Homo sapiens: one gene and its partner. The protein of the gene in region 2 purifies or fractionates together with the protein of the main gene of each other region. This does not show direct contact. Each region holds a gene or a part of one and is shown on either strand. Other genes may lie near its edges. The genes, in order: PRMT8 and AFM.

Region 1 (3,821 bases), on a different chromosome or scaffold from region 2:
GTAGTGGTCCTAGTTCTGAATTCCACACCTCTTTGTCAAGCACCGGCTCTGTACCAGGAAAGCTAGGTACCCAAGTTCCAAACATGAGGACCACCTGGTCCCTCCTCTGGAGGGGCTCACAGTCTCATGGACAACTATGATGGATAATCCTGTAGCCACCTTTTCCTGCTTTTTGTTGTTTATCTCATTCCATCCTCACAACAATCCTGTGAGATAAGCAAAGATTAGTATTCATTTCTTATACCCATTTTATAGTTGAGGACACCGAGGCTGAGGTCAAGCAATTGCTGAAAGTCTTCTGGTGGGTTAAGTCAGCCCTGAAACACAGACTGCCCCCACTTCTGATTCATTGCTGTTTGCCCTGCCCTTGCTATTTCTAACAAGATGCCATGTGTGAATGGGAGTAGATGAGGAGTGGGCAGAGAGGAATACTTTGGAAGGGAGAGATGCAGTGATGGAGGTGGGCAAGGATGGGAGAAAGTGTTCGTTCAAAAGCTAAAGCTACGGAGAGATACTCTAACCATTGGGCAGGAAGGGAGCAAGTGAAGAATAAAACTACTTACATTTTGACCAAAGCCTCCCTCCACAAAGCGAAGTACCCAGCTAGGGTACGAGAGCATCAACATCACGTGCTTGCTGGACACTGTTGGCAATGGGTGGCCCTGGGGGCACTCTTCAACCGCTCTGACCTCAGTTCCCTTCTCTGTTAACTTGAGCTGATTCTCCTCATGGAATAGGGCAGGTATGGGTATAAGGAAATGCCAGGACAGCCCCTGGCACATGGCAAACACGCAATAGTGTTAGTTCCATGTACGCTTTCTCCTGATCACTCAGCTATGCTTCTCTTCCTCGGCTAAGGGAATCACCATTCTGCCAGCCTCTTCTCCCTCTCCCCTGTTCCCTAGGTGTCATGAGAAACCTCCTCTGTGGCCTTCTGGAACATTTGCAAAGCCTCCAGTCCCACTCTCCTCTTCAGCCCATTGTCAGTGCCCAAGACACATCATCTCACCTCTGCCCTCACTAAGGCACTTTCCTCTGAACTGTTTGTCCTCTTCTCTAATCAAGCCTCATAATCCTACTGTACTGGATCAGCTTTCTGAAGCACAAATCTGCTCATGATCAGGCATCTCTTTAAAAACTTAGGATGCTGTCCTATTGCCTACAGGACGCTAGATAAAGCCCAGTTTCCTTAGCATGGTGTGCAAAGCCCATCAATACCTGCATCATGCAATTCTTGGAAAAGACCTCCGACTGCATATGTGAATGCTTCTGTGCATACTCTTCCCTCTGCCTGTGCCGGTCTTTCCTCCTTCTTCTCTCTGGAAAACAATCTTTTTCAACCTGCAAGACCCAGCTCAAACGTTACCTCCTCTGGGCAGGCTTCCCAGATCTGCCATTTATCCTCTCTCCCCAGGGAGGGGCATTACCCTTTCTTATGTGTTCCTAACGCCTGTCTCTCACTTTTCCTATTGCAAGATAATTGGCTTTTTGTGTGTCTATTTATATGTCTATTAGATAATGCACTTTTTTTTGAATTTGTGGGCCTGACACACAATAAGTAATAAATGTTAATAAATGTTGACTGAATTGATGTATGTGATTGTGAACAAACTCTTGAGCCTAATGGGCTTTAGTCACTCATGGCTTCCTGGAAATTGGGATTCCTATCTCCCACCCCACCTGTCTGCTGTACTTAGTTGCTGTGAACCTTTGAAACTCAAAATGGGTAAATATTCTGGGAATCAAGGTGCTGAAGCCAGTCAAATCATGGGTACATTTTGGTTATTCATGTACTTATTCAATATTCAGTAATTATCGACTCTTACTATGGAGTGCTCATCTGAATAGCAGATAAATGGATTAATCACAATGCCCAATTATGAACCATGGGGGATAATGGACCCTCCTGAGCTACTGCTTGCTTTACTGATACTTGGTGAAAGTCTGATGCATGATGCATTATTTATGGCGATGACTCCCTGATTAGGGTTTTATCACCTCAAAGGAGAGCCCCCAGGAGTTGGGAAACAGTTTTAGCAAAGAGTCACTTTGGAAACTGATATATATATATATATTTTTTTTTTTTTTTTTTTTTTTTTTGAATGTTCTGTTGACTTGCTGGCCCAGGGAGAGGGAATAATTACAGGTTGGAAAAAATCCTACAATGTGACAATGAGATTAGGGGTTGCAGTGAGTTATGGGGATAACTGAGCTGACTTCTTGCATGGTGTATCTTGGTGGTTTTGGCTAATAGATCTTTCTCCTCAGGAAGTTACTTTCAGCTGAAGAATGTGGTCCCATTATTACAGGGGTTAGGGAATTGAGGAAGAGGAGGAACCAGGCATAGTTCTCTGAGGATGGTCTTCATCTATGTCTGTTTCTGCAGAGTGTGTACACTAACTAGTAGGCTATGGAGACAGACTTCCTGGTTTTCAATCCAGTTCTGGACCTAGTAGATGTGTTGCTACATTGAGCAAGTTGCTTAATGTCTCTGGGCCTTTTAAGATTGTTGTGAAGATGAAAAGGGTTAATTTATGCAAAGGAATTAGAACATTGCCTTATACATGGTGAGTTCTCAATAAGCGTTTATGATTATTATCCTGCTAGCTTTTAGGAGTCTTGCCAAAAAAGTGCAAACTGAAAGTATTCTCCCACTTTCTCATTTCTGTAGCTGAAATGATCCATAAAACCATAGTCCATGTGACTTTTTCCTCCCTCCGCAAACACTGATTTCAGTCCTTAAGTGAGCTCAGGAGAATTAAGAAGATACCCAATTTTTTTTTTTTTTTTTTTGCCTGGCTAATTTGGCTTTTCAGAGTCCTAAATTGGCTTTTGGCTGTCAAAGACAGTGAAACACAACACTCCTGTCTCCAATTCAGGAGTGGGTTTCATTTCCTCCTCTTTGCTAACTGCAATGTGAAGTGATTATCACATACCAGTGTGGAACATGCAAAAATCTGTAAAAACAGTCCTTACACCTTGGAGTCTACTCTGCCAGCAGGGGGAAAATGGGCAGCCTGAAAATATGTGAACAGCCAAGGTAACTGAAAGCAGCCTCTGTGTGTGAGAAGCAAGCAGGTGGTGCTGTTGTGAACTGGCTTAGTAACAAGATAGAGTGAGCACAGGCAAGAAGGGACCTCTGAAAGGTCATTCTGTCCATGCCTCTGTCCCTGAGAACCACCTAACCGAAGATGCATTGTTGGCCACTTGGTCTCTTGTTAAAAAGCTTCAGAGAAGGGAATTTCCCCAAACTCCTCGAGTGTCTCAGTAGTCGGAAGTTCTCCCTGAAGTCTGAGCTCAACCTCTTCGATTGCAATCTGAGTCACCTTCGTTTATGTTATTCTAAAAAGAGATGAAAACTGGCTGCTACCTTTTCATTTGGGGTTGTCTCACCATTTTTACTAGTTTTTGTTCCAATTGATTCCAATCCCTTTTTCTGATATTCTGGTATTAGACTTCTAATAGGAATAGCTAGGAGAGGAGTGTTTGAGATTTGCCTCTCCAGTATTATCCAGCCAAAATAGCCACTGGATATTTCACACATCAAATGTCTTTTCTTACTTCACTTGTTATAAGAATTCCCTCAAGCATCACAGTTTTTCCCATATTTGTAATGAGTGGCCCATAAGTAAAGATCTCTTTTTAAAGTGTAATTTTATATTGAGCAAACAGCTTGATGTGCGTATTTTCATAAAGTCATAGAATGTTAAAGTTGGGTGGAAACTCAAATCACTTAAGTCAGGAGATAGGAACTACTTGTCCAATATCACAGAGCTCTTCCGTGTTGGGGTCAAGATCCTGTGGACTCCTGGGTCTGTGCT
Region 2 (4,323 bases):
TTCAAGAAAAAAAAAAGAAGGAAAGAAAGAAAGAAAGAAGAAAGAAAGAATGAAAGAAAGAAAGAAAGAAAGAAAGAAAGAAAGAAAGAAAGAAAGAAAGAAAGAAAGAAAGAAAGAGAAAGAAAGACATAAGATAAAAGGAAAAGAAACACAAGCAATTTACTTACAGGTAATTTTGAACACTCTGGGAGCGTCTTGTCAGCCATACATCTGTCTTTGTATTCTACCATGTCTTTCACCAGCTTTTCCATTTCTTCAAAGGTTGCTTCCTGAACATACTGAGCAAATGCAATGATGGTGCTGCAACAGTTCACATGGGGTATACAAAGATCAGTTGCAGAGTTTCCATTTATGGTCAAGAAAAAGTCACAGGAACATCCTGACTAGCCTCAGGAAATTATCTATTGTAATGGCTATAAATTTTACAACTTCTTTGCCTGAATTTTATAATTAAAGTTGTCTTCTTGGATATGGCTTCTATTTAGTTAAATTACTTTTGAGAAGCATTAACATTTCTAGAATATATCATTTTAAAAATCATCATCAAAAAGTATTTAGCACAACTCACATGTATTCAATATTATCTTCTATAAATTTTTGAGTACTATTGAAGTTCTCTGAAAAGCAAGAATATTTAGGTTATTACATAGCATGGTTTTCTAACATTTTTCAAATAAATAACTATACATGGCATTTAAGTGTATAAAATACAAAATAGACCACTGATGACAGGAGATAATTTTGCATATTTAACAAGAAACAAATAAGTCATGTGAACAAAATAGGAAATCTTAGTCATTGTTGATTATGTGTTCAAGAAATATTTACCAAATTGAATTGACCTAAATAAATCTTAATCTGACTAGACTTTAAATTTGCCATTGATGGCTCCCCAGATAGAAATGTCAAATACATTACCATGCTAAATGTCTATCATTTATGACTAGAGAAGTGATATGAAGATTAACTAATGGCTGATTCAATGCCATAACAGAGCCTGATGAGAGATGCTGTAGCATGCTGGTGGTCAGCATAGTTTTTAGCGCTACTCAGTCACAGCTATTTAGGTCATCTCCAGATCCACCTAAAATCATGGATTCCCTCCCAATGAGCATACACTAATTGGAGCATATTTATGTTTGTTCACATAAGCTACATTTATTTTTTGCAAAGTGTTGTGCTGGACCCTGTGAAGCAATCAACAATGACTAAAATATCTCCCCTTGACATCAGGTTCCTAAGCTGCTCTCTAATAGAAGTTACTCGTGCATGTGACAATAATCTAATTTAGAATGGGATTAAGTTGGGAATGCTTTATGAATCCTGGGTGAGAAAGAAAGAAAAAAAAGGATTATAGGAGGAGTGAGATATGAGTTGAGCATGAGTAAATGTAAGAGATTCAGCTGACGGAAAAATGAAAAACCCTGTCTGTCTGTGTGGAGAGAGAATGATGTGAATAAATGCATTAAGAAATCTTGAGAAGTATTTAGGGAAAGTCAATCTATTTTGATGAGAAAGTGGGTCACAAAGAGGAATAATGGTACCTAGGATAGAAAGAACCTGGGCCCAGATTATAGGAGTCTTGTATATAAAGCTAAGGAGTATGGGCTTCATTTGGAAGACATGGAGAGCCCTGGAAAATGTTTATATAGGATAGTAATCTGATCATTTCTATACACTAAGAAATACGAGTCAGGTAGTGGTATATGTAATGTCATGGGACTTTCCACAGTGCCAGACAAATAGAAAAAGGTAGAAAGAACTATTGTCAAATAAATGGGCAAAAGAAGGGTGGATGGGACAAAGTAAGAAGGCCATAGGAGACTTTGCAACTGTCACACTGAGAAATCAGCAAGATCTAAATTTTGGTAGGAGTAATGGAAATGAAAAGGAAAATATAGATACAAAAGATATTAAAGAGGCAAAAAATCAAGATTTTGAAACAGGTTGTTACGAGGGAAAAGGAGCAGGAAAACTCAGAAATGACCAGTCTTCACTAGCTGGTATTGTAGGGGCATGTCAAATTGAGTAAGACACGTAAGACACGATCCATGCCTTCAGGGCCACTGCCATGCTTAGGGCACATTTGTTCAAGTCAAAGAAAGGAGCTCCTTCTAGGCCAAAAAGGATTAGAAAAAGACACCTCCTCTAGACATATGAGGTTCAAAATATTTCCCCTTTGGATGGAAGAAATAAAAAAAGTCATCCCTTCCTACAGACTGAGATGGCCTTGGCCAGGCTCAGGAGGGATGTTCAAACTGTACAGTTGAAGGAGGAACTAGGTTCTGCATTCCATAAAGATATAGTTGGGAAATATGTTGGACAACCAAAGGTTCCAGAAAAATCCCAGTTAACATCTATTGTTCCACTGTTACCATAAACTATACATATATGCAAGAAATACCAACATTAAAATCCAAATGTATCTCCCAGCAACACTTTCTGTCCTGTCATAGACTGCTGATTATTCTTCAGATGTGACAACTCTTTCTTCATATAGACTTGGTAATATAAAAATTACCATCAAAATAAAAATTCTGAAAAGGTTAGTTTTGGATAACTGGTTAGCCTATGTAAATTAGTGAGAGGGTGAAAAAAGCAAGTAAAGAATTAACTTGAAAGAAAACAAAATTTTAAAAATAGAAATTATCCTAACTGGTCATGCTTTAGCTGATATACAAGTAAATTTCTTACCTATATCCCGAGGTTGTGTGGGCAGGGTTAGGGATTCAGTCAAAAAAAACAAGAAAAAAATAAAACCTGTAAGTTTTAGTAGTTTCATCTTTGTAGAAACCACATTTACAAAAGAAAGTAATGTTGTTGAGGAAAATCAAGTTTTTATATCATTCTTTCACATTATCAGTAAAAAAGTAACCTATTTAATCTATTTCTGAAATACTGAGTATTTGATTTTTTTGATCACTCTGCAGAATTCTTGCTAAATATTAACCAGAAAAAAAAATTACCTTTGTGTTTCGCTGGAAAAAATCTACTGAGTTGGAACAAAAGTCCACAGGCTAAGTATGCACAATACTTAATCAAATAGACAACCAAAAAAAAACTTAAAATACTGCAAATGTTAAAGGAACAAAGGGCCAGAACAGATATAATCAAGCAATCTCTCTTATGCATATATATCCAAAGGAAGTGAAATCAGTATCTCAAAGATATATAAATATGTACGCCTACTATGTACTCACAAAAATTAAAAATAAAAAATTAAGAAGATATACCTGCACTTCGGTGTTTATTACCTCATTATTCACAATAGCCAAAATATGAAAACAACCTGTCAGTCAACATATAAAAAACTAAATAAATAAATAAATCTCACACGCACACACACACACACACACACACAATGGAATACTATTTAATCTTTAAAAAGAAGGAAATTCTGCCATATGAGAATATGTGGATGAACCTGGAGAACATCATGTTAAGTGAAATAAATCAGACACAGAAAGAAAAGCACTGCATAATCCTACTTATATGTGGAATCTAAAAAATCAAACTAGAAACAGAGCATAAAATGGTGGTTATCAAGGGCAGGAGGTAGAGGAAATGGGGAGATGCTTGTCAAAGGGTGCAAAGTTTCAGTTACGTAGAATGAGTAAGTTCAAATGCATCACATGGACTACAGCTAATAATACTGTATTGTATGCTTAGAATATGCTAAGAGACTAGGTCTTAAGAATTCACACTGTCTTAAAAGAAAAAAAAATAGATAACTGGCTGGGCGTGGTGGCTCACACCTGTAATGCCAGCACTTTGGGAAGCCGAGGCAGGTGGATCTCTTGAGGCCAGGAGGTCAAGACCAACCTGCGCCAACATGGCAAAACCCTGTCTCTACAAAAATTAGCTGGGAGTGGTGGCATGCGCCTGTAATCCCAGCTACTCAGGTGACTGAGGCATGAGAATCACTTAAACCTGGGAGGCAGAGGTTGCAGTGAGCCGAGATCGCGCACTGCACTCCAGCTTGGGGGACAGAGCAAGACTCTGTCTCAAAAATAAATAAATAAATAAAATACGTCAAGAGACGGATGCGTTGATTAGCTTGGCTGTAGTACTCAAGTCACTATGTATATGTATTCAAAACATCATCTTGCACGCCTTAAATATATATATTTTTTATTACCTTTTTTTTTGAGACAGTCTCACTCTGTCACCCAGGCTGGAGTGCAGTGGCGTGATCGTGTCTCACTGCAACCTCTGCCTCCCGGGTCCAAGCGATTCTCCTACTACAGCTTCCTGAGTAGCTGGGATTACAGGTGCACCCCACCATGCCAGGATATTTTTTGTATTTTTAGTTGAGATGGGGTT

Evidence for each region.
Region 1: the proteins of AFM (region 2) and PRMT8 purify together in Homo sapiens (affinity purification with mass spectrometry; one large-scale study listed by BioGRID and IntAct). This does not show direct contact.

What each region holds. Positions count from the first base shown.
Region 1 is NC_000012.12:3,494,141-3,497,961, forward strand, and holds part of PRMT8 (protein arginine N-methyltransferase 8), read left to right. Parts: intron 1-3,821. UniProt on the Homo sapiens protein: S-adenosyl-L-methionine-dependent and membrane-associated arginine methyltransferase that can both catalyze the formation of omega-N monomethylarginine (MMA) and asymmetrical dimethylarginine (aDMA) in proteins such as NIFK, myelin basic protein, histone H4, H2A and H2A/H2B dimer.
Region 2 is NC_000004.12:73,480,235-73,484,557, reverse strand, and holds the start of AFM (afamin precursor), read right to left. Parts: upstream 2,814-4,323; 5' UTR 2,783-2,813; coding exon 2,695-2,782; intron 618-2,694; coding exon 569-617; intron 301-568; coding exon 168-300; intron 1-167. UniProt on the Homo sapiens protein: Functions as a carrier for hydrophobic molecules in body fluids. Essential for the solubility and activity of lipidated Wnt family members, including WNT1, WNT2B, WNT3, WNT3A, WNT5A, WNT7A, WNT7B, WNT8, WNT9A, WNT9B, WNT10A and WNT10B. Binds vitamin E.